Linked DNA regions of Homo sapiens. The protein of the gene in region 2 purifies or fractionates together with the protein of the main gene of each other region. This does not show direct contact. Each region holds a gene or a part of one and is shown on either strand. Other genes may lie near its edges.

Evidence for each region.
Region 1: the proteins of SPINK1 (region 2) and PDIA5 purify together in Homo sapiens (affinity purification with mass spectrometry; one large-scale study listed by BioGRID and IntAct). This does not show direct contact.

The regions. Positions count from the first base shown.
Region 1 is NC_000003.12:123,119,025-123,122,524, reverse strand, and holds part of PDIA5 (protein disulfide-isomerase A5 precursor), read right to left. Parts: intron 1-3,500.
Region 2 is NC_000005.10:147,828,872-147,833,081, reverse strand, and holds the start of SPINK1 (serine protease inhibitor Kazal-type 1 precursor), read left to right. Parts: upstream 1-1,410; 5' UTR 1,411-1,504; coding exon 1,505-1,559; exon of another isoform or gene 1,560-1,673; intron 1,674-2,211; exon of another isoform or gene 2,212-2,577; intron 2,578-3,451; coding exon 3,452-3,483; intron 3,484-4,210. UniProt on the Homo sapiens protein: Serine protease inhibitor which exhibits anti-trypsin activity. In the pancreas, protects against trypsin-catalyzed premature activation of zymogens.

The DNA of each region.
Region 1 (3,500 bases), on a different chromosome or scaffold from region 2:
ATTGTTTTAAGTCCCTAGCACAAGGCCTCACATACAGCAAGGACACAATAAATGCTCACTAAATTCACTGTTTTTTTTTTCCTAGCCCATTTTAGGATGCAGCAAATAATACAGGAAGAATAAATTTGAATTCGAATTTACTTGAAGCCCTGGAACGCTCTATAAAAGTCATTCTGCTCATTTCCCAGACTGCTCCAGCGGCCTGTTCCAGTAATATTTGTCTTCTTTAAAAGTCCTTTTTTTTTCTGCCTAATTGATCTCCCCAGTGTCAGTGCACATTCACCACAGATTAATCTTACACGTCCTCCTCGCTCATTACATCACTTCCCTGCACAAAACCTTCCAATTCCATTGAATATAGGCTAAAATCCAGCTCCACATTCAATGCCCATATGTTACCTATTTCATTTTTGAATCTTTCTTTCTTACAAAACTCTTCATTGTACACCTGTTAGGGTCTAGATTTTTTATTCTCCCAGGAATAAGACAGTCTGAGATTTCTGCACAGGAAGGAAGTTGGACTGTCTGCCTTCTCAGACATCTTGCTGAGTGCAGCAGCAACATGCAGTGGCTGGAAGCATGGACTCAGGATGCCTGGGTTTGAGTCCCAACTCCCCATGGGGTCGCGCATTTCCTTGAATGAGTCACAGTTGTCTCTGCGTCTCACTTTCCTCATCTGCAGCCACCTCATGTGGTTGTTGAGAAGATTCAATGAAATAATACAAGATAATCAATAACACAAAATGTATTAGCTATTTTTGTTACTAGGACTAGGAGGTGCTCTATTTCTGCCCACACTTCTGGAACACTCGCTGTTCTCTCCTGGCCCCCACTTGGTGCCTTCCAGTCCCCTTACTGAGGCTGCCCATCCCCCGCCTCCTGGCGACCCTCCAGACTCACCCATCCCTTAAGGCAAATCAAACCTCACGTCTCTGGGCAGCCTTTGCAAACCACCTTCGCTTGGGGTGAGCTCTTAATTCTCCAAGTTTCTGTAGCACTTTTGTGCCATTTTGGGGGCATCTATTAGTTAATGAGGCAAAAATTTTTGAAAAACTACATACAAACACTTTCTGGAGTTAGAATTTGTGAAGTCAAATGAGGTGACACACCTGGTCTCGGCCTGTGGAGAAGATAAGAACACAGCCTCCCTGCTCCCCACTGCCATCTGCATGCTTGGGGCCACTCAGCTGGCGTGACATGCTCTTCTGTGTGTTCAGCCCTGCTGCCAGGAACCATCACGGCAGCTTCTTAGCGTGGGCTGCATGTGAGCTTGCACTCAGAGGAGAGTAAGATTTCAACAGACGTCCCGGGATGGGGAACTGGAGGCAAGGCAAAGAAAGATGTGGCCCAAGAAATGGAGCACATTTCCATCTAACTGGAAGGCAGGATACACAGAAAGGAGAAGACATGAAAGAAAAGGCTGAGTGAGTTGGCCAGGATCACTTTGGGAAAGGCTTGAAATACCTAAGAAATCGGGACTGTATTCAGGAAGTGACGGAGAGCTCCCGAGGGTTTCTAAGTAAGAAAGCAACCCTCAAACCAGTTGTATCTCTCGAAGCAGAAAGGACGAGCTATGAGGGAATGCTGTGGTCAGGAGACAAGTCAGCAGCCTTTGGCCACCAGCTAGCATAGCCCACTGGACAGGGCTGGTGGGCAGGGAGAGGATGAAGGGTGCATGAGGAAGATGCCTGATGATGCCTCAGTAAAGAGAGGTGGAGGTGGGGGGTGGGGAAAGAGCCTGGCCCCTGGGGAAAGGACTTAATGCAAAGTTCACAGTCTGCCAGATGGAAAGATACTGAATTTTCAGACATGCATTTGAGACACAAGGGAAAAAATCCAGATGGAGCTGTGAAGCAAGCCATCTGACACGTGGCACTGGCACTTAGGGGAAGGACTTGGGCTCCATGGAGCTACGTTTTGTTGAAGCTATGGACAGAGATGTGGTCACTGGAAGGTAGACTGTAATAAGACAAAACCTTGCTCCAATGTGTTAACAGGAAAGCGGAACCTTGGGAGCACCCCCATCTAGCCGGTGGAAGGAATGTGGTGCAGGGCAGCTGTAGGGAAGAGAGGGGATCAGTCATCTGTGTCTATGAGTGCTCTGTGGGGTACAGGGCTTCTTCCACACAGCCCATTTGTTCCTCACCACAACCCAGTGTGGGCAGGGTTGGCATTATCATCTCCATTTTACAGATGGAGAAATGGAGGCTCCAAGGCTAAGGAGCTTGGACCAAGATCTCCCAGCTGGTTAGCAAGAGCCAGCACTAGAGCCTGGTCTGTACAAATCTGTCGTCATGATGGTTCTATTTCATGGTGTTTATACCCAGACTGGCCCATCATGGCCGAGGTCCACCAAAGACTAGGCAAAGCTCAAAGGCTCAGTGCAGATGTCAATAACTGGCAAGGCTGGGAAGAGGCAGATGGAGACAGGGCTCATTCTGATGGCTGCTCTGAGATGGGGGCAGCGTGGCTGCTAATGAGGATGTCAATTAGCAGGAGTAGATGGGACAGACGCGATGAGTCACCAGACGTCAATGACAGCACAAAAGAGGCAGCTGTAAGTTTGGAAATGGCAAAGGCTGTGCATCCCTGACCTGGCATGCCTTCCTTCCTAATGATGTCAATCAGGTTGAACACCTCCCAAAAAATCTGTAGAGGAGGAAGATTTTTGACCCTTGCCAGAGACAGACCCAGCCAAAAAGGCTCAAAGATGACAGAGATGAAGAAGTGACAGAAGGCCCTAATCCAGCTGTGTTTCAGCAGCGAGGAGGGGGTGAACTTTGATTTCTGGGGAATAGCAGCCCATTTATTAGTCCCACCTCTTTTCTGTGTGTGAAGACAAAAAGCAATTGACACCTGTGGTCACTCAACCCCTCCAGCCAGGTCCCCAGTTTCTGGGGAGCTGCCCCTGCAGAGTAAGCCCTAGCCTCTAGGGGCCTCCTGCGTGGGTGATGCGTGCAGCGGCCAGGGCCCTTCCCTCTTTATGTAGCTGGGAAAGGGCTAGAACTTTCCAGAAGATGCTTTTCTAGGAAATGAAAGGGAAAATAGAACAAAACAAACCCCAAGCAAGAAAATATACAAACAAAGAAATGAGTTTACACAACCCAGATGTCTTAGGCCAAGGCAGCCAACACCTGGTCACAGCTTGACTTGCCCAGCTTTGCAGACAACGCCCCTGACTTTTCTGTAATGTTGAGGGAACTGGAATGGGTAACTTTTATATTTCTAGACCTGGGCCCAGGCAGAAGAAGCTGGAATTCATTTTTTCTTTTTTTTAGAGACAGGATCTCACTCTGTTGTGCAGAGCATGGTGCAATCATAGCTCCCTGCAGCCTTAAACTCCTGGGCTCAAGTGATCCTCCCACCTCAGCCTCCCAAGTAGCTAGCATTGACTACAGGTGTATGCCATTGCACCCAGCTAATTTTTAAAATTTTTTGTAGACATGGGGTTTCACTATGTTGCCCAGGCTGGTATCTAGCTCCTGGCCTCAAGTGATCCT
Region 2 (4,210 bases):
TATCACCTGAAAAGCAAGACCTTCTCTGATTACGCTATGATACATATCTCCTTAACCCTCCAGCACCCTTATCCTTCTTGTCCTTTTCTCCATAATATTTATCTGATATATTTTATAATCACTTATTATTTTTTGTCACTTGCCTCCCTCAACAAAAAGGCAATGGAAGCTCCATGAAGACAGAGATTGTTATTTTTATTTACTGATCTGTCTTAAGAGATAAATACAGTTCTTGTCATGACTTGGGAAGGGTTTGAGATTTTATCCTACTTGGAAGCTAAGAAGTTAGCCTGCCACATTATAATGGTTTCTGGCAGAAGGCACAGACTCCTGGCTCAGAGAAAAGGGACTTAATTATTCCATAGCAACAGCCAGAGTATTGGAATTTGTTCTGGTTTCCCAAGCCCCAATTTCCACAGGCCAATTTAAGGGGCATCAAGTGATAGTTGCAGGGAAAGTACAGTGTGTTAAAGGAAAGAAAGGCCAAGCTTTTAAAAACCCGAAATCTTTTGTAAAGGGCAATTAACATGGTCTTTGCCCTAGAAGGAGATATTAACTTTATTACACTAAACAGTAAACAAACCTGCCTTTTGGTGCAGAGGGAGACATTACGTATTTTCTAAGGTCGTTTGTTATATAAACACCCTTAAAAAGATAGTCTGAAACAAAGGTTATCAGTACCTCTACTCATAAGACACACCAAAACATGAGAGAGGATGGAGAATTCTCTTCTAATAACACATGGTAGATATCCAGCACATATTCTCTTTTACCCAGCACATATTCTCAGATGAAAGAGTAACCCTTTGAATTAGGTGTTATTATTATTTTAATTTCCAGATGAATACACAGAAGCACAGCAAAAGTGGCTCCAACAAGCACCCTCTAGCTCCAGAATACACGCTTTAGGGAACTGAGTCCTCTCTCTCTCTTGCTTTCTCTTTCCCTCTCATCTGCCACTCCATCAGCTACTTTAGGTTTTGTGAATGAGTGAGGGAAAAATAGAGAAAAGAGAAAGAAGAATAAGAAAGGAAGAGTGGAGGAAAGGAAAAAAGAATGGAGAGGTTTTACCCTACTTGGAATAAAATTCTTTCTAGTAGCTATCCATACCTGCTCATCTATCCAGAACTACAGAGTAGAAGGGATCTTTGAGTTCATCTTACAGGTGAGAAAACAGGCTTGAGAAGGGAATGACTTTCCCACAACCACAGAGGGAGTTAGGGATCAAACTAACCACTAGAACTATTTTCCTGACAGAATCTTTGCCTTGCATGTTTCAGGCCCACCTGGCTCCTTTCACCTTTCTTACACAGGTGACATTCCCAGAACCTGGAGGCCAGGCTATGACACAGAGTCAATCAATAACCAGGGAGATCTGTGATATAGCCCAGTAGGTGGGGCCTTGCTGCCATCTGCCATATGACCCTTCCAGTCCCAGGCTTCTGAAGAGACGTGGTAAGTGCGGTGCAGTTTTCAACTGACCTCTGGACGCAGAACTTCAGCCATGAAGGTAACAGGCATCTTTCTTCTCAGTGCCTTGGCCCTGTTGAGTCTATCTGGTAAGTGTTGCATATTTTTCAAATTTAAATAAAACTGTTTTGACCTGTTGCTTTGTGAAGCACATTATCTTCTAGACTTTTGATGTAGTCTAGTCTTCGAGAGATGTTTTGGACCTAATGAGATGAAATAAAATCAACAGGTAAGAATTATTTTTTAAGAGGAATTTTTAACCTACTATAAGGAAAACAATTCTACTAGTAAGAAATTCCCAGAAATAAAATGGTTTTCCTCTATTGATGTGGCTGACCCTTTGTTGGGATATGGTAGAGAAAAAAGGGTAAAAATATTTTAACTTTAAGTATACTTCTCATTCTGTAAATGTGTAAGGCCAAATTACAAATTTTAAATTCTCATGGGATTGCATAAAATAGATAAATGGCTTCCAGTTATTCAGTATAAAAGGCATAATTTGACTGATTAAAAATTTATTTTTTTATTGTATAGGTTTCAGTGTACTTGAATCATGTATAGTTTGTCAGATTTATCCCTGAATAGCTAATATATGTGATATAAAGGGAATTTTTTATTTTCAATTCCTGGTATTTCTTATTAGTATCTGGAAATACAAAAATTGCATTTTGTGTATTTACATTACACATTTTGAATGTTTTGAAAGAAAATATTCTGCTTGAATAGATGGTGCACATATACCTCCAACTGCATCTTGACAATGTTGACAGACAACTCTGAACCCGCAGAGCCAAGATCAGTTTCCTTTTTATCACTGGAAATGGTTAACATTTTCAACTTCACCTCTCATGTAGTGAAGGATCCTGTGGAGAGCCAAATCAGCACTTTGCTAAGAAGAGGAAGAATATTGTTTGTTTTATTTGCTGAATATTTATGGCAACAGTCAGTGTTCCCTTTCCCCCTCCTCATGCATGTTAATTAATACAAATAGATGCCTGTGATGAGCACCTGCTCTTCAGTTTTTAGACTCAACTAGATTCTAAAAGCCAGTGGGCCCCCAACAACATCAAGTTCTGACTATCCCGGGGGAAATTCTCCAAGCTCATAGATGCCTCACTAATTTTCATTACATTTAGATACAAAGAACTACCTCTTTGCTCAGATCACCTCAAAGATTGATGATATTAAAATTAATTTTCAGGAATGTTTCCTTATTTGATTGCTATCATATTAGTTCCCTTTCCCTTCCATGAACTTATCCACAGTTATCATTTCCTATATGTTGTCAGCAAAACCTCTGCTATTTTCTGGGGGAATAGAGATTAGCTATTTTGACTACCTGTAAATTCAACAAATGTGAGTTAGACCCATAGTCCATATGATGCAATTGTTGGAAATAGCTCTTTGGGAACTGATAGTGAGTTGGCAAAAGAACTCTATTTTTTCAACAATACTTACAAAAGGGAATTTAAATGTAATTGAAAAAGCTAACTTTGCATCAGAAGACCTGGTTACTGCTTATGATAACTGTTTCACAGCTAGTTATAAAAACTCTCCATACTTTCATCTGTAAACTGAGATAAAAATTATACTTCACTAATTGTGAGATTAAAGATCTAGTAACTGGTTTTGAGAATGTTTGTGAGTATTCAAAAGATAATTTGCTCAGTGCCTGATTCATTTCCAGCAGTAAGTGCATAATTTCTGTTTTCAAGGAAATAGATCAACTTCCTAAAACATCAAATCGAGATACTTTGGTCATAATCAAAGTTTTACTCAAACTTTTTAAGGTTTTGCCAAGGAAGGGGTACAGGAAAATCAGTCAGATACTTTTGGAAGATTAGAGAAATCAGAAAGGGTGGGGAATGAAAGAGCCTAGTAAAGAAGTCACAGTCTGCAATGAAAGCAGAGAATTCTGATGAAGAATAGATCTGACTTCTTTCATTTAGGACCCAACTTACCATATCTGATTTATTTCTAGGTAACACTGGAGCTGACTCCCTGGGAAGAGAGGTAAAGAGATATTTGTAATTTCTTATTTCTCAGACTGGAACAGTTTGATCCAACAAAAATGCAGCCTTGCTGTCACCTTTCAGTTTAGCCTGAAGTTAAGAGGAGTATGAATGCTAGGGAGGGTTAACGTGAGAAATGCAAATGGTAGTAGTAGTTCCAACCCACAGGCGTATATTGAAGGACAATTTCACTGATGTATAAGCAAGTTCCATATAGTCCTACAGTGCTTGCTGTGAAGGGGTTTTTATATAGACTAGTGATAGCTGTAGACAAGTATTTGGGGTGGAAGCCTTCTCAACTTCACTCCAAGTAGCCCTTCCTCCTTACAGCCAGTTTGACCATGTTGGCATGCAGCTCTCCCAATCACCAAGGTGTGGCTCTAATTTATAATGAATGACAGAAAATAATAAACTAGGTTCTCCTTCTAGAAAAATATTCTAACTCTAACCTTTTCATATTTTTTTGTTTAAGAGGTAATTTCAGTAAATTTGGAGACCAGAGGAAGAAGTGTCCCTGTTCTCAGTACATTTATATCTAGTCAGAGACAGCTGATAGACCAAAAGTTCATGAATGAATGCAATATTACATTTGTGATAAGTGTTATGAAAAAGTTCTGCTGCCGTTAGGAACTTAGCCTAGTTAGAAAAATCAGGGAGGGTGCTCCGAAGTAACTGAGGGGTTATTTTGAGCCAAAAAAAAAAAATGAGTGTTAGTAAAACAAAACTGG